4 linked regions of the Homo sapiens genome follow. The protein of the gene in region 2 interacts with the protein of the main gene of each other region in a pairwise test. Each region holds a gene or a part of one and is shown on either strand. Other genes may lie near its edges.

Region 1 (4,427 bases), on a different chromosome or scaffold from region 2:
GAGAGGATCCTAGGAGCACCTCTGACCCCTACAGACACTGTTGTGGCCTCCCCCAACCCCTAAGTGCGACGTGCATCATCTCTGTGGGGTGAACGGCGCCTGTGCTAGGGCTCTGCTCGCAGTCCCGACCATGCTGTGGGCACTCTGCCTCACTTCCCACACCAAGGAGCTGGGGCGTTCAGGTGCCGCCCACACGAGGAAGGAGGCCAGAGCCTCCCACATCTGCCGAGTCGTTCAGAAGTTAACAAGGCTCATGGTTTAGGGTTTTCTGGAATGCAGGGCTAATCTGAGAACACTTCCCACTGTCTATATGGAGACTGCATAAGGTCACTCTACGGAGGGCAAAACGCACCCCCAGAAGGTCTGGGTAGGGGCGTGGCCCTTACCTCTGTGCATCGTGAGTACTTTCTGCAGCTTCAAGCTCTTGCCGAACCCTTCCCAGATCGTTTTTCAACAAAGTGTTTTCTTCAGAAAGTCTATGGAACTCCAGTCTGCGTAAAAATTGAGAAAAGACCGGTGAGCACTTGGGGAGCCACATGTGGTCACGGAGGCTGGCTCTGCAGCGGGGAGTCCTGAGAACTGTGCGTCCCCATCTCCCCGTCCCTGGAGGTGGCGCCAGACACCATTCCTTTCCCTCTTCCTGCACCAGGTGTTAACGTCTTACATCTCCCATGAGCCAAGCCACAGAAAACGGAACTTTCTTAGCTTCTACACTGCCACGCCATCAAGTCACAAATGCACTCAGAACCTTGGGTTTTGCTTATGCTGAGTTTATAGCTGAACTGCTCCTGCATCTATGGCCTCTCACCAAACGTGTGTCCTGGTTGCCAGTGCTGGGCGTGAGTCCTCAGGTACTGCAGGGTACTCATGCCCTGGCAGTGAACTCAGTGTGGAGCTAAGAAACACAGGAATCAGAAGGCCAAGATATATGGGAAACCTCTGCTAGGTGAATCTCAAAGTGGGAAAAGGCAGGGATAGACAGCCACTATGTGAACCAAGTCTGCCTGGGCCGTCTTTGTTCTCTGACAACTCAGGGAGTCCCTGCTTGGGTAATGCCATTGATTTGATAGATGAAGATGGCAATTTACCAATGAAGATCACTAATGGGAGCCAGGAGTGGCGGCATGCATCTGTAATCCCAGCTACTGGGGAGGCTGAGGCAGGAAGACTGCTTGAGCCCAGGAGTTTGAGACCCTCCTGGGCAACATAGTGAGACCTTGTCTGTGAAAAAACAAAAAAGATCACCAGTGAAGTAGCTTAAGACCCATACTTGCTACCCAGAGAATGCATTCTTAATACTGACTGGTAAGGCTAACGTGTATTCCCCAAATAGGTCTCCATATGGTACTAGCTTCTTATTTTTTCAGTCTGAAAATACTGAAAGCCACATGATCTCACCATGTTCACTTCATGTATTTTTTTGTTTTTTCTTTGAGATGGGGTCTCATTCTGTCACCCAGGCTGGAGTACTGTGGCACGATCATGGCTCACTGCAGCCTTGAACTCCCAGGCCCAGGAGCTGGGACTACAGTAGGCATGCGCCACCACGCCTGGATAATTTTTGTTGTGGTGGAGATGGGGTCTCGATAGGTTGCCCAGGCTGGTCTCGAATTCCTGGTGATCCTCTCACCTAGGCCTCCCAAAGTGCTGGGATCACAGATGTGAGCCACCACGCCCAGCCCGCTTTATGTATTATACTTATAATAGTAAACATAAGTATCTTCTTCATATGCCTTCATTTTATCTCATGAGGAACTAAAGACAAAAATAAATAGTCACTGGAATTAAAGGCAGCAAAGGGTTTCAAGCAGGAGAGTTCTGTGTTTTTAAACTATCACTCTGGCTCTAGAATGGAGAACAAGTTGATGCAAGGCCGAAAGCTGAGGGGTGCCCTACCCCATCCCCCACATGACCACCAAACAACTAGATCCTGCGCAAAGCTGATCGCAACCTCTGTGACTGTCCTCATGGAAAGAAAAGAAAACCTGCAAGAATCTCCAAACAAAACAAAATCCTGGAAGCTGAAACCAACGCGTGAGCACTATGCAACACAAAGCTGGGGGGACCTTGCAACCAATGCCTATGTGTCAGCACTGCTATTAGCAGAATGGAGAAGCTGCACTGTGGACACCTGCACCAGACAGGGCCCTGGAAGGAGGTTCAGACAGTCCCAGATTAGCACCTTCTCACTTCTCTGCAAAAGCAATAGCATCCCATATAAGGCTCTTTATATTCCCAGAGATTAACATCAAGCAAATATGAGCTCACAATCAAAGATCACCATAACATACATGGAGCAAAGCCACCCATAAATGACAGCAGAAGCCAGAAGCCAGAATTCAATCCTCTAGAAACTGCAGGTATTGGACTTATTAGACACAAACTAAAAATAAGTGTTATGAAATGTTTACATAAATAAAAGACAGCAACAAACAATGAACAAGCAACAAGAAACTATTGACAATGATCAGACAGGACCAAACAGAATTTTTAGAAATGAACAAAAAGTCAATGTCAAAATAAAAACTCATGGGATGGTTTAAATAGCAGATTACACAGAGCTGAAAGAAAGAGATACTGACCTGGAACACATAGGTATGTAAAAAATACCCCAAATGTGATACAGACAGAAGATGGAAAATATAAAAGAGAGGTTGAGACATAAAGTGAAATGCTCTAACAGTCACATATCTAATTGAAGAAAATAGTGGGAGGAGAGGATATATATATATATATATATATATATATATATATATATATATACTTTTTTTTTGTTTTTGAGACGGAGTTTTGCTCTTGTTGCCCTGGCTGGAGTGCAATGGCGCGATCTTGGCTCACTGCAACCTCCGGAGAGGCAATATTTTAATAGTAATGGCTGAGAGATTTTCATGAGACACCAATGCAATCCATACATTCAACAGGGAAAATATTTCTTTTTTTTTTTTTTTTCCCTTTTGCTCTGCCGCCCAGGCTGGAGTGCAGTGGTGCAATCTCAGCTCACTGCAGCCTCAACCTCCCAGGCTCAAGTGATCCTCCCATCTAGCCTCCCAAATAGCTGGGACCAAAGGTGCGTGCCACCATGTGTGACTAATTTTTCTTAAGTTTTTGTAGAAAACAGTCTCCTTATGTTGCCCAGACTGATCTTGAACTCCTGGGCTCCCAGAGTCCTGGGATTATAGGTGTGAGCCACTGTGCCTGGCTGGGACAATGTTTTCTAAGTAGGATGAACAAAAAGAAAACTATGCCTATACCCACAACATAACAATCCCATTTCTAGGTACAGCCCAACATAATGCTCCAAAAGACAAATGCAAGAACGTTCAGTGCAGTTCCATTTGTGAGAGCCAAAAACTAGGAACTACCCAAATGCCCATCAACAGGAGAAAAGAATAAACTGTGGTATGTTCACACAACAGAATACCACACAGCAATGCAAATGTATGAACTACAGCAACAACACAGATCAATCGCACAACCAGGTTGAGCCAAGAAAGTCAGACACAGAAGAGTACACACTGCATGATTCCTCTCCATAAAGTACAAAAACAAGCAAACTGAATCTATGCTGTAAGAAGTGGTTACCCCGGGGACTCTGGTGAATTCCATCTCTTGTTCTGGGCGCTGGTAACACAGACGTGTTCAATTTGTTGACAATTCTCCTAATTGTACAAATATATACATTTTCTTATGTGTATCACACTTTAATAAAAAGTTAAAAAGAGGCTGGGCATGGTGGCTCACACCTGTAATTTCAAGGAGGATCCACTTTGGGAGGCTGAGGCAGAAGGATCGCTTGAGGCCAGGAGTTTGAGACCAGCCTGGGCAAAATAGTGAGAGACTATCTCTACAATGAATAAAATAAAATAAAATATAAAATAAAATAATAAAATAAATAAAATAAAATAAAATAAAATAAAATAAAATAAAACAAAGTGGCCAGGCCTGGTGGCTCAGGCCTTATGTAATCCCAGCACTTTGTGAGGATGAGGCAGGCAAATCACTTGAGGCCAGGAGTTCAAGACCAGCCTGGCCAACATGGTGAAACCCCGTCTGTAGTAAAAATACACACATACACACACACACACACACACACACACACACACACACACACACATCAGCTGGGCATGGTGGTGGGCACATGTAATCCCAGCTACTTGGGAGGCTGATGCAGGACAATTGCTTGAACTTGGGAGGCAAAGGTTGCAGTGAGCTGAGGTTGTACCACTGCACTCCAGTCTGGGCAACAGAGTGAGACTCCGTCTCAAAAAAATAAATAAATAAATAAATAAAAAGTTAAAAAGAAAGAAATGCACACAGCAAATAAAAACCACTAAAGATACAGGTCTCAGAAGTAACCAGAGCACAAAAGTCAGATACCTACTGTGGATGGCACAATACTGGCCTCTAACAGAGACTATGTGACATTA
Region 2 (5,354 bases):
TTTCTGCTGTGAACTCACCTGCTCTGAGACTTACACATCTAGTCAGTCAGCGATGCTTGCATGTCTCCTTTGTGCCAGACTATGCCTGGGCGCTGAGGAGTCAAAAACAAGATGCCCTCAAGGAGCTTAGAGACTAGCTGAGAACCAAAAATTGCATTACAGCATGATGTAACAGAGTGTTACAGAGGAAGAAGCAGTTGGTCATGCCAAGCTTTCAGAGGGATGCAGGCCAGAATTTTCCACTAAAGTGTCACATCTGAGTTCAGTCTTGGAGGAGGAATAAGTATTGGCCTTCTAGGCAGCAGAAACCATGTATGCAAAGGCAAGATGGCATGAGAAATCATATCGTGTGTGAGGAACTTCACAGGACTGGATATGAATGCAGAATGGAGACTGGGGTAGCCAGTGGTGAGGGGTAAGACTGAAAAGATAGGCGCCAGTCTCGAAGGGCTTGTAATCTAGGCTTGACTTCGTAGCAGTGAGGAATTATCAAAAAGTTTCAAGCAGGGGAATGACATGATCAGATCTATGCTTCAGGACAGTGACTCTGGAAAGTGGGGAGAATTTAATAGAGGTTAGACACAAGGACCCTCTGCCATCTCAGGTTCCTTCCCTGTAAAATGAAGGAGTCAAAGTGGATAATTTATGGGCATTGCCCAGCTCTATTCCAAATAAAAGTGATGATTCTTACAAGCCCTGTCCAGCTCCTCGCTTCTGATTATACCCTGATCTTAGAAAATATGTAACTCTTGGCTGGGCACAGTGGCTCATGCCTGTAATCTCAGCACTTTGGGAGGCGGAGGCAGGCAGATCACGAGGTCAGGAGATTGAGACCATCCTGGGTAACTTGGTAAAACCCTGTCTCTACTAAAAATGCAGAAAATTAGCTGAGCATGGTGGCACAAGCCTGTAGTCCCAGCTACTCGGGAGGCTGAGACAGGAGAATTGCTTGAACCTGGGAGGTGGAGGTTGCAGTGAGCCGATATCACACCACTGCACTCCAACCTGGGCAACAGAGTGAGACTCTGTCTCAGAAAAAAAAAGAAAATATGTAACTCTTAATTTTTATATTTGGTCACATACAACTGAAAGTATAACATAGTTATTCTTCTCATTTAGATCTGTATCAGAAAAGAACTCCTATCACCCTGTCTCATTAATGACATCATTTTCAGAGCCTGATTTAGGCCAGTCTTCCTCCTTGTATGTGTCCTCCTCTGAAGAGGAGTTACCCAACCTAGAAAAAGAGTATCCTAGGAAAAACAGAATGATGACCTATGCTAAGGAGCTCATCAACAATATGTGGACAGACTTTTGTGTTGAGGATTATATTCGCTGTAAAGATACTGGCTTCCATGCAGCTGAAAAAAGAAGGAAGAAACGAAAAGAATGGGTGCCCACAATTACAGTACCGGAGCCTTTTCAAATGATGATAAGAGAACAGAAGAAAAAAGAAGAGTCCATGAAATCTAAATCAGATATCGAAATGGTACATAAAGCGCTCAAAAAACAAGAAGAGGATCCAGAGTATAAGAAGAAATTCCGAGCCAATCCAGTTCCTGCATCTGTCTTTCTCCCCCTTTACCATGATTTAGTCAAGCAAAAAGAAGAACGGAGAAGGTCTCTGAAGGAGAAAAGCAAAGAAGCTCTTTTGGCCTCACAAAAGCCATTTAAATTTATAGCAAGGGAGGAACAGAAGCGAGCAGCCCGGGAAAAGCAGCTGAGAGACTTTCTTAAGTATAAAAAGAAAACAAATCGATTTAAAGCCAGACCCATTCCTCGATCTACTTATGGTTCAACTACCAATGACAAGTTAAAAGAAGAAGAGCTCTATCGAAACCTTAGGACACAGCTGAGAGCCCAGGAGCATTTACAGAACTCATCTCCTCTGCCTTGTAGGTCAGCTTGTGGATGCAGGAACCCCAGGTGTCCTGAACAGGCTGTAAAGTTGAAGTGTAAACACAAGGTTAGGTGCCCAACTCCTGATTTTGAGGACCTTCCTGAGAGATACCAGAAACACCTCTCAGAACACAAGTCTCCAAAACTCTTAACAGTGTGTAAACCATTTGATCTTCATGCATCTCCACATGCATCTATTAAAAGAGAAAAAATTTTGGCAGACATCGAAGCAGATGAAGAAAATTTAAAAGAAACACGTTGGCCTTATTTGTCTCCAAGGCGTAAGTCACCAGTAAGATGTGCAGGTGTAAACCCTGTGCCTTGTAACTGCAACCCTCCCGTGCCCACGGTATCTTCCAGAGGACGAGAACAAGCCGTAAGGTAAGTAAGTAGGACGCAGTACTGACTGACTCATGGTTGCCAGATGAGTGTATGCAGCTCTGTGGAGTTTATGTTGGTAAATTTGAAAATACTTAGAAATTATTATTGTATCTATAAGATATTTTACTATATAATATATGATATTTTGTCAGAGGGTATTCTAAGAAATGAATATATTTTTCATTTATAAATTTTGGGGGATTAGAAAATAATAGTCTTAAGATTTCTAGTTTTACCTGGCTGGGCACAGTGGCTTACACCTGTAATCCCAGTGCTTTGGGAGGTCGAGGCAGGTGGATCACAAGGTCAGGAGTTCAAGACCACCCTGGCCGAGATAATGAAACCCCCATCTCTACTAAAAATACAAAAAATTAGCTGGGCGTGGTGGCGGGTGCCTGTAATCCCAGCTACTCAGGAGGCTGAGGCAGGAGAATCGCTTGAATCCAGGAGGCAGAGGTTGCAGTGAGCCGAGATCACGCCATGGCACTCCAGCCTGGGCGACAGAGCGAGACTCCATCTCAAAAAAAATAAATAAATAAATAAATAAATAAATAAATAAATAAATATTTCTAGTTTTACAGGTCAGATCCTTTTCAAAAGGTTACCTTTTTTCAAATTTTGAATTATCAAAATTCAAATTATCCCATGTTAAATCTTTGCTAAACAACATTCTGATTGGCTTAAAGTGGATTAAGCCTTAGTTTGTTACCCTCAGGAGATCACTTGAGGAAAAGAAAATGTTGGAAGAAGAGAGAAATCGGATCCTAACTAAACAGAAGCAAAGAATGAAAGAATTGCAGAAACTCCTGACAACCCGGGCTAAGGCTTATGACTCACATCAAAGTTTAGCTCAAATATCTAAATCCAGAGTAAAATGTCTCAGGTATCATGAAAAAATCTTGAATCTCCAGACCACTGGTTTTCAAACTCTTTTTTTTTTAATCAGTAGATAGTAAAATATGAGCAGATTGAAAATAGCATTAGTGTTTTAGCTTATGGATTTAAATTGTCATCAGTTACTTGTGTTCAGTGCACACACACTCACCTCATGGTGAGAACCAACATATAAACTCACCTTTATGGTGAGAACCATGAAGCTATGTTGATGAATACAGACATTTTCTATTGTGGCCTTAGTTAATGGTTATAATCTTATACCAATATCTGATCTTGTTCTTTATATTATTTTTGATTGCAGTAAACAGATATATCAAAGAGCTTTGTTCTAAGGTTTGGATGAAATCTGATAGCACAAATTAACACGTTAAACATCGGTTATGTGATGTGTTCATTAGCACATATGTTAATGTTTAGTAGTATGTGTTGCATTTTGTTAGTTTCAATATAAAAATATTCACGGAATTCTTAGAACCCCTTCACTAGAATTTTGCAGTACAAAGTTTGAAAACCAGTGTTCCAGATGTTGCACATAAAAATGTTGATGTTTAAGTAGGAAACTATCTCCCTCAAAGCCAGGTAAGTAATGTGATTTATTACTTTTTAATCTGATTTCTAAATATGCATATGTGCTTTTAATTACAATGAGTATTCTTTTATAATTTAGCTTTAATCCATTGATAAAGGGAGCTTAATTTGATGAACGTGAGCATAATGTTTCTTAGAAATAGATTACTTACCCTTAGGAAGTAAACTATTAATAGCTTTTTATTTTTTATTTATTTATTTTTTTGAGACAGAGTCTCGCTCTGTCACCTAGGCTGGATCCCGAGTTCAAGCGATTCTCCTGCCTCAGCTTACAGAGTAGCTGGGATTACAGGTGCTCACCACCACGCCTAGCTAATTTTTGTATTTTTGGTAGAGATGAGGTTTTGCCATGTTGGCCAAGCTGGTCTCAAACTCCTGACCTCAGGTGATCTGCCTACCTTGGCCTCCCAAAGTGCTGGGATTACAGGCGTGAGCCACCGTGCCTGGACAATAGCTTTTTCATAACACCAACTTGTGTATAATTAAGCCTAATTATCATTTAAAAGTATAATTATTTTCCCCAATCCATTAATCTTATTTATCTTGGTAGCAATTATATCTTACATAGAGAAAATAGTGTAGTTTAATTTATTATAGGATCTTGCTCAAACAGTGAGAACACTTACGGTAAATTTATATATTTTGGTTCCTGTTTCTCTTTATGTTGTATTCCCATGCTCTTTACTTCTCCTTTGACTTGCTCCCATTGAATTAACTTTGCCACTAACCTGTAGGAGATCTTATTTAGGGGAAAAAAATAACAGCAAAGGCTGGATGCCATGGCTCACATCTGTAATCCCAACACCTCAGGAGTACAAGGCAGGAAGATTGCTTGAGCCCAGGAGTTTGAGACCAGCCTGGTAAACATAATGAGACCCCCATCTCTACAAAAAATTTAAAAAAATTAGCCAGGTGTGGTGGCATGCCCCTGTAGTTCCACCTACTCGAGAGCTAAGGTGGGAGGATCATTTGAGCCCAGGAAGTCAAAGCTGCAGTCAGCCATGATTGCACCACTGCACTCCAGCCTGGACAACAAAGTGAGAACCTGTCTCAAAATTAATAGGCCAGGCGCAATGGCTCATGCCTGTAATCCCAGCACTTTGAGAGGCCAAGACAGGCAGATCACCTGAGGTCAGGAGTTCAAGACCAGCCTGGCCAACATGGTGAAACCCTCATCTCTACTAAAAATACAGAAAATTAGCCAGGCATGGTGGTGCACACCTGTAATCTCAGCTATTCGGGAAGCTGAGGCACGAGAATTGCATGAACCCAGGAGGTAGAAGTTGCAGTGAGCTGAGATTGTGCCACCGCACCAGCCTGAGCAACAGAATGAGACTCCATCTCAAAACAAAAGTAAATAACAACAACAATAAAATAATAATAAAAAATAAGAGCAAAGTCTTGTTTTCAGGAGAAATTCCTTACAGAGAAGATAGCTAATTTGTTCCAAAATTTTCTTGGTTTTATACACTTATAAATGAGACAAGAGGACTTTCATTCATCTTTTCAGGGCAGTTTGAAGTCCCTTAAAATATTTATGCCTTGAGGATTTCAGAAATTAAAGTGTCCAGACTATTCCTAGAGCATAA
Region 3 (4,427 bases), on a different chromosome or scaffold from region 2:
GTCCATGTACCCATCACTCAGCTTCACCAAGTATCAAATCAAGGCCACACTTGTTTCACCAGGCCTCAACCTGATTCCACAACCACTCCCCTACCGCTAGGTTATCTTAAAGCAAAGTGACATTGTGTCATCTTATCCACAAATATATAAATATGTGCCTCTTTAACAGAATCACAATACCATTATCACCCTTTAACATTTAACAATTATCCCTCAATATCTGCGAATACTGAGCCCATGTTCAAATTTCCCCAATTCTCATTTCTTTTTAACGATCGTTTTGTTTCAGCCAGAGAGACAATCTTCTTGATCCAACTAAGGGTCCAAAGAGGAATCATGGATGCTTTCTACCTGTCCATATTTGGCCATGATGGCTTTTAACCCATGGCATTCAGCTGCCTGTGTTCTACATCCACCTTCCACACTGGGTACCCAAGGAACATTCTGTCATCCCCTCAACAGAAATACACTAAACAAAACCTTAACATATGGTGGATCCCTAGCCACGGACAACCTGGGTGTTTGTGCCCTGGTCTTTATTCACACATTCAGGTGATCTTGCTCATATCCACTCACTTTCTGACCTTAGTTTCCACTTCTGTAAAATGAAGGGTAAGAGTCATTATCTCTAAGTGCTCTCTTGGCCTAACTGTCTCTGGTCCAGTGGATTTGCATTTGTAAATTGGCACCACTATGGCCCCAGCAGCCCTCTTTTACCAACCTAGTTGGCATCTCGTCCTCTCCCCTAAATGGCCAACTCTTCCCAAGCAGGCTTTGTGCCTTCTCTTGTTCCATGCCCACAGCACCTAATCCAGGAAATGCTGATGGACAAATAAGTCCCCTTTACTTTCTCAACAGGAAACCAAATTCTTCTCCAATGACTGAGTCCTATTATCTTTCCTCCTATCCTCAGACAGGACCAAGAAAGTGGTCAAGTGCAGTGTTTCCTCATGGCTTAATTTCTTAGAACATTTAAAAATTTTTCAGTAGTCATATACTTATTTTAATGAGTAATGGGAAAACATACCTATATTAAATATACAGGCATTTTTAGACATGACAAGGATCATGATTGAACTTCAGGAAAACATTGATCCAGAACAAACTTGTTTTTTCCTGTAGCATTTCTCTGATTCTGATCAGAGCTAGCTGGATTTAATCCTTAAAGGAAAGCTCTTGGCCTTGTGAAAATTCTTCACCCTAGTCATGTACCCACTCAGGATGTTATTGCACCAATTTTTCCCCTACATTAGTGTCAGTGAATCAACTAACATTAATTTGGCACGTACTGTGTTCCAAGCTCACAGACCCTGCCCTCAGGGAATTTCCAGTTGATTTGAAGAATCAGTGAATAGCACCAATTACTTCTTGATGCAAATGAGAGAAGTCAAAATGCAGGAAGCATTAACGCAGGCAGCAAGGTGTGGGGAATAGGGGACTAGAAATGATAACATCTCCAGAGAATTCTGGCTCTGCACTATATGAGTGCATGACCTTTACAAAGTCACTTCATTTCTGTGCCTTAGTTCCTAGAAAATGTGGATGTTGACATGAATGAATCAGGGCCAACCCATATATTTTTGAAATGCCCAACTCTAAAAGGCGCTATTCACTGTTACTGCAGGGCACAACCTGTACAACCCTCTATAACGACCTCACCAACATCTGCCCTACTTCTCTCAGAGGGTTTGTTGTTCAGAAATAAAAGGAGACTCGGAACATTTTCTTTGTTTATAAAGAGCTGCAGACATACAAGAAGGGCTTTTAGAAGAGACATTGCTTAGCATTTCTTTAGAGAAAGATTATATAGAACAAGAAAAAAAATAACACTGAGTGACTATAATGTGTCAGGTTATATGCTAATTGATTTCTGTATTCATATGTAATATCTTACCCAAAGAACTGGCATGATTCTGCATAAGATTACATAGCTGATAAAGGAGTGGAACCAGGGTTTAAAATGAGGATATTTGACTCCAAACTCCATGTTTATTCTAGCACTTCACAATGCTCAGACATTTTATTTTGCATGTGCTAATATCATTACTTTGCAATGGTTCTCTTACAACCAGGCCTGTCCTCTCCCCATATGAGTAAGTTGCAATTATCTAAGCACAGTGACCTATCCCTTGTTTTTGTGACATCCCAAGTCTTGGGAATTAGAAAGCAAATTTCACATGTGGTGGAGGCTTAATGAGTCCTTGGCAATAACTGAATCAACCAAAATACACTGAAAGATTGGGAGGAAATACTAGGTTGAACCATAAGAAACTGTTAACATTTTACCATTTTTGGCCTACAAAAATGGCCATTTCTTTTGCCTTAATATAGTTAGTGTATTTGATAAGCTATATCCTCATTTCCATTCATATTTTAAGACTTTAAAATAGTCCCAGGGCAAAGCTGTTATGGTATGATGTAAAATCTATAAGCATGGAGTTTTCCTCACGTGAATTCCACAAACCCCTAGGTTCATCCATGTACTCCCTTAGAGGAAGCTCCCACCACCCCCTGCACACAAGCACGCTAGTGGTCCCTTTCATCATCTTGAATATATAATCCAACGAGGGTAAACGCCCTAAATTTCCAGTAACTTTGGGCTCAAAAGTCCTTCCTTTGACTGCTCTTGAGAAAGTCATTTTGCCTCTCAGAATGTCACCTCTAAAATAAGCCTAAACATGGCTGCTCTGCCTACTTCCTGGGGTTGCCAGAGGACAAGAAAGTGGTAGCCAAGCTGTCATAAAGACTAAACAGATGGTCAGTTCTACTGGTAAGGTTTAAACATACCCAGCCTAAAGCGCTATGCAACGTGGAGTATATTTCTTTACAAAAGGGCTACCCAAAAACTAAGCATCTGAGCTCAGCGAACATATGCAGTTCCAGGATTCCAGACCTCCTTGGCCTATGTTAGAAGCCAGTTCCTTCTCAGTAGGACTCCTCGACCAGTGGTATCACTGGATTGGTTTCATGGGCCAAGCTAACCTGCCCTGATATCCTTTAGCCCTTGACAAGAGGTCTATGCCAATACAAAGCCCCAAGAACACCCCAGTAATGTTCTCCTAAGCCTGGGAGGTACAGCCTGTGTAGCATGGTGCAACTGACCATGAAAATAAAAGATTGTCTCTTTTCTGGTCTCTAGGAAATGCCCTCACATAGAGATCCAGTAGGTAGGAAAGAAAAAGGTTGGCTTCTTCATGGAGGAATGAGATATGAAGCTGATGCAGAAGGGGAATAAGTTGGTCATGGGCTCATCATGCCTTCCTGTCGGGTGCTAGAAAGGTGCCAAGAGACTCTGTCCTCAGGGGAAATGTGCTCATAGCTGTAACCCAATGATGCATTAGTGACAGGGATCCAGGAAGGGCCATGGGCACGAACATCGCCCTCACAGAAGCCTGAAGTCCCATCTGTGGATTGGAATTCTTCCTTAGCATTAGGTCTGGTGCCCTCCTTGGTAAATATAAGTGGTCCTGGAAGGAAAATGCCTGAAATCTGCCAACAACTGTGTCTTTGTCAGATCACCAACCTGGTGGCAAGTGAAGAACATGGGGGAAGGGGACAATTGAAAGAAGGGAGGCAAAATGCAAAGGCCAAAGGGCAAAAGGAAAAGGGGAAGTGAAAGGACCAAAATCTCTTACTAGTGCTACAGGACTTGTAGCAACAGGTCTCTCTGGGTGGGACCTTCTGGGATAGAATTACTGGGGGTGTGGTTTCCCATCCAAAGAGTTTGGGGATGGGATTGAACAGCAACTAGCCAGGCTTAGCTGACACACACTGATGTCTCTCCACCCCTGGAAAAATGTGGCTACCACAGCCCAGAAGAGATGTCCAAACACTGCTGATAGAGTCCAAGCCTGCTGACCAAGTTTCTTAAACACCAACTTTGCCAACATTACTGAGGGTTACTATCAGAGAACATTCAGCCATCTGAGGTACTATTAAAGCATGTGAAGTTGAGAGGACCCAGGATTCTGGAAGGAAAAGCCAAATATGATACTGATTTTCATATGAGATGACAAGGCTGAGTCTCATTATCATTATTTTAAATTAATTCAGCTCCCTGGTACCATGGCAAAGTCAATGGTGGTTTTAATAAATACTAACAGGTAAAAGGATAATTCACAAGGTAAATGTGATTGATGTTGACAGAATTACAACGTTAACAGCAAAGAGGATAAAGAAGATGTCATATGTAGTATGTTTGCATACTGTTTAACAGAGACTCTCCTGAAATCTTCCTGGGAATTCAAATTGGCGGGTGCTGTCAGCAGGAATTCACTGCTTCTGAGTAACAAGCACAAACAAAGGGGAAGGAGAAAAGGCAACTGGGAAGGATGAAGGAGGCACCGGAGGGTGCTATTGGAGCTCAGTCTGACCTGGTGTAGCTCTTTCATTAATGATCTAGGAGTAAACAATGCCTTAATGAAATT
Region 4 (3,622 bases), on a different chromosome or scaffold from region 2:
ACCTGGGTACCTACAGATTTCCTTCCACACTGTCAGAATTGAGATGAAGGAAGCCCAGAGAAATCAAGTACCCTCCACCAGGCAGAGCAAAGTCCTGGGTGCCCAAAATCCAGGGAAGGCAAGGGCTGGGGGTACAAGCAGAGGATCTGAAGAGGTATATGAGAGTGGCCAGCACAGACCTGGCATAAGCTTGGTGCTCAGTGAAGGTTACCTGATGTTGCTGGGCACCAGGGTGATGCAGTGCAAAGGGCCTTGGCCAACCCACTTTGCAGCATAGCTGGGTGACCTGGTACAGATCACATCGCATTTCAGAGCTTCAGTTTCCCCTCAGGCAGAGAAAGATGACAAGAGAAGCCTGGAAGGGTTGTTCTGGGGAGTCAGTGGGTAAAAAGAGGCCAGGGTGGATCCTGGCACATGGTGGGTACCAGACCAGTTTGTCAGAGGAGGTCCTCTCTCCCCAGAGGTACCCACACTGGCTGTTGCAACCAAACCCTTTTGTTGTTGCTTTTCAGCTGCGTCACACGAAGGCCGTGTCCAACTGCAAGAGCCCGCCTGCTTCACTGGCCCCCAGTGCAGCCTGGCACAGCTGCAGGGTGTCCTCAAGCGCCAGTGGCTGGGATGTCTCAATGATGGCGATGGTCTCCCCCAGCTCTGTGCACATGATAGTCTGTTGAGGCTCTGGAGGTGGGGGTGGGGCAGGAGATGGTGATCTGGGAGGCTGTAGCGTCAAAGTCCGAGCTCGGGCATGGACCCGCTGATGCAGTCGCAAGCCCGCCATGGCGCGGAACCAGCGGCCACAAGTCCCGCAGTAGTAGGGACTCTTGTTGTAGAGACCAGTGATGGGGAGGCGGGGGGCGCGGGCAAAGGCGACTGGCCGCAAGTGCAACCGCCGGTGCTGCTGCAGGTTGGAGCTCTGTGTGAAGCGCTTGCCACAGTCCAGGCATTGGTAGGGACGTGCACCCGTATGGGTCAGCTGGTGGCGGCTGAGGTTGGCCAAAGAAGCAAAGGTCTTGCCACATGAGTGGCACTGGAAGGGCCTCTCACCCGTGTGTGTCCGCAGGTGGTTGCGCACGTGGATCAGCTTCTTGAAGCCCTTGCCACAAACCCCACAGCGGTGACGCCGTTCAGGGGGCCCGTGTACTGCACGCCGGTGCCGGGACAGCCGGGAAGCTGAGGCAAAGGACTTGGAGCACTGTGGGCAGGGCAGCTGGGCAGGTGGGGCAGGGGGTGGTGGTGGAGGGGTGGGCTCCGCTGGAGCTGGGGGAGCTGTTGCTCCTGTGGGAGGTGCCCCGCTTTTGCCGGCGTGAGTGCGCCGGTGGTAGAGGAACTTGGTCATGTTGCTGAACGTCTTGCCGCAACGACAGCGATGCAATGGGTTGGCAGTGTGGGCCCGCCGGTGAGCCACCAACGTGAGTTCTGTGCCAAAGCCGCGGCCACAGTCTACACAGAGGTAGCGGGCTTCCCCGCGATGCAGCCGCAAGTGCTGCTCAAGCGATGCTGCTTTCTTGAAGACCTTGGAGCAGGTTGTACACTCATGTGTGCCACCAACATGGGCCCGCCCATGAGCCTGCAGCCGGTTGGCGGAGCTGAAACTGCGCTGACACTGGCTGCAGTGGAAGGGGTGGGTGGCAGATGCCGGGCTGTGAGCCGTCCGCCGGTGTTGCCGGCGAGCCCCTGCTGAGGGCTGGTGCTGGGGACAGTCCCCGCAGCCCTGAGCCCAGCCAGCTGTGGACTCGTCACCTCCCACAGCATCATCACCGACCTCTGCCATGGCCTCCTCATCCTCCATCTCTTCATCATCTTCTTCATCCTCCTCATCGTCCTCTTCCTCCTCCTCCAACCCATTGCGCTCCTCTTTCTCTAGGGAGTCAAAGTGGGTGCCCTGATGCTCCAAGAACTCCTCAGGGGTGGCGCAGAGGGTAGAGCACTCAGGACACTCATAGGGCTCCATCTTGACTTCGGATGGGGGAGAAGGTGGAGGCAGTGGTGTTGGGGGAGGCAAAGGAGGTGGCACTGGTGGCTCAGCTACCGTAGCAGAAAGGTGCTGGGCCTTTCGATGAGCCACCCACAGCTCGGGCGAGGGGAACAGCTCCTGGCAGTCCCAGCACTGGTATTGGATCTGGTTTGCAGACTCTCGGAGGTGGGCATCCTGGTGGGCCAGGAGCTCCCCAGGGGAGAGGATGAGCTGGCTGCATTCACCACACTGGAAGGGCCCCTCAGCACCCGGCACCAGCTCCGGCTCCAGGCCAACATTCTGTGTGGTCAGTGCCTCCTCCTCTGAGACAGCAAGCATGTGCTGCTCCTGGTGTGAGAGGACTTCCTCCAGTGTGTTATAGAGGCTGCCACACTCAGAGCACATGAACTGGTGATGCTGGAAGAAGAGGGATGAGGCAAGGGCCTCCCCAGGTGTCATCTCAGTCACTTCTGTTGACATCTCCATCATCTCTGCCGACATAGGTGTTGACATCTCCACTGCCCCTGGTGACATCTGTGTTGGCATCTCGGCCACCTCAGCCACCACCTCTGCCATTGTGGGGAAGGCAGTGCCTGGAGAAAGAGGGGCAGGAGCCAGTGAGACAGCAGGAAACCAAGGGGAGGTGGAATTCTCTTGCACATCCCACTACTCACCAGCTATCGCTCAGGAAGTCTTAATCCACTGTTTCTGCTTCAGTCTTCCGTGATCCCATGTCTCTGAAGCCTACACACACCCCACGGCAGCCTGCAGGAGAGAAACACCACTCAGCCCAGCCTCTTTTTTTTTTTTTTTTTTCTTCTGAGACAGAGACTTGGTCTGTCACCCAAGCTGGAGTGCAGTGGCACAATCTTGGCTCACTGCAACCTCTCGCTCCTGGGTTCAAGCTATTCTCGTGCCTCAGCCTCCTGAGTGGCCGGGACTACAGGGGTGTGCCACCATGCCTGGCTAATTTTTGTATATATATATATATATATATATATATATTTTAGTAGAGACAAGGTTTCACCATGTTGGCCAGGCTGGTCTTGAACTCCTGACCTCAGGTGATCCACCCGCCTTGGCCTCCCAAAGTGCTGGGATTACAGATGTGAGCCACCACCCCGGCCAACAGCCCGGCCTCTTTTTTTTTTTTTTTTTTTTTTTGAGATGGACTCTTGCTCTGTTGCCAGGCTAGAGTACAGTGGCGCAATCTCGGCTCACTACAACCTCCACCTCCTAGGTTCAAGTGATTCTCCTGTCTCAGCCTCCCGAGTAGCTGGGACTACAAGTGTGCGCCACCATGCCCAGCTAATTTTTGTATTTTTTTGTTGTTATTGTTGAGATGGAGGCTCGCTCTGTCGCCCAGGCTGGAGTGCAGTGGTGCAATCTCTGCTCACTGCAAGCTCTGCCTCCCAGGTTCAGGCCATTCTCCTGGCTCAGCCTCCCGAGTAGCTGGGACTACAGGCGCCTGCAACCACGCCCGGCTAATTTTTTGTATTTTTAGTAGAGACAGGGTTTCACCGTGTTAGCCAGGACAATCTCAATCTCCTGACCTCGTGATCTGCCCGCCTGGGCGTCCCAAAGTGCTGGGATTACAGGCATGAGCCACCACGCCCGGCCAATTTTTGTATTTTTAGTAGAGATGGGGTTTCACCATGTTGGCCAAGA

What was found. Proteins that work in one complex are often made in the same cells at the same time.
Region 1: the proteins of FAM161A (region 2) and NINL interact in binary tests that used the Homo sapiens proteins (3 or more experiments, as listed by UniProt).
Region 3: the proteins of FAM161A (region 2) and CBY2 interact in binary tests that used the Homo sapiens proteins (3 or more experiments, as listed by UniProt).
Region 4: the proteins of FAM161A (region 2) and ZNF526 interact in binary tests that used the Homo sapiens proteins (3 or more experiments, as listed by UniProt).

The regions. Positions count from the first base shown.
Region 1 is NC_000020.11:25,469,605-25,474,031, forward strand, and holds part of NINL (ninein-like protein), read right to left. Parts: intron 492-4,427; coding exon 387-491; intron 1-386. UniProt on the Homo sapiens protein: Involved in the microtubule organization in interphase cells. Overexpression induces the fragmentation of the Golgi, and causes lysosomes to disperse toward the cell periphery; it also interferes with mitotic spindle assembly.
Region 2 is NC_000002.12:61,836,347-61,841,700, reverse strand, and holds part of FAM161A (protein FAM161A), read left to right. Parts: intron 1-1,119; coding exon 1,120-2,280; intron 2,281-2,995; coding exon 2,996-3,163; exon of another isoform or gene 3,164-3,756; intron 3,757-5,354. UniProt on the Homo sapiens protein: Involved in ciliogenesis.
Region 3 is NC_000013.11:45,705,320-45,709,746, reverse strand, and holds part of CBY2 (protein chibby homolog 2), read right to left. Parts: intron 1-4,427.
Region 4 is NC_000019.10:42,223,312-42,226,933, reverse strand, and holds part of ZNF526 (zinc finger protein 526), read right to left. Parts: intron 2,720-3,622; 5' UTR 2,629-2,719; intron 2,548-2,628; 5' UTR 2,531-2,547; coding exon 518-2,530; 3' UTR 1-517. UniProt on the Homo sapiens protein: May be involved in transcriptional regulation.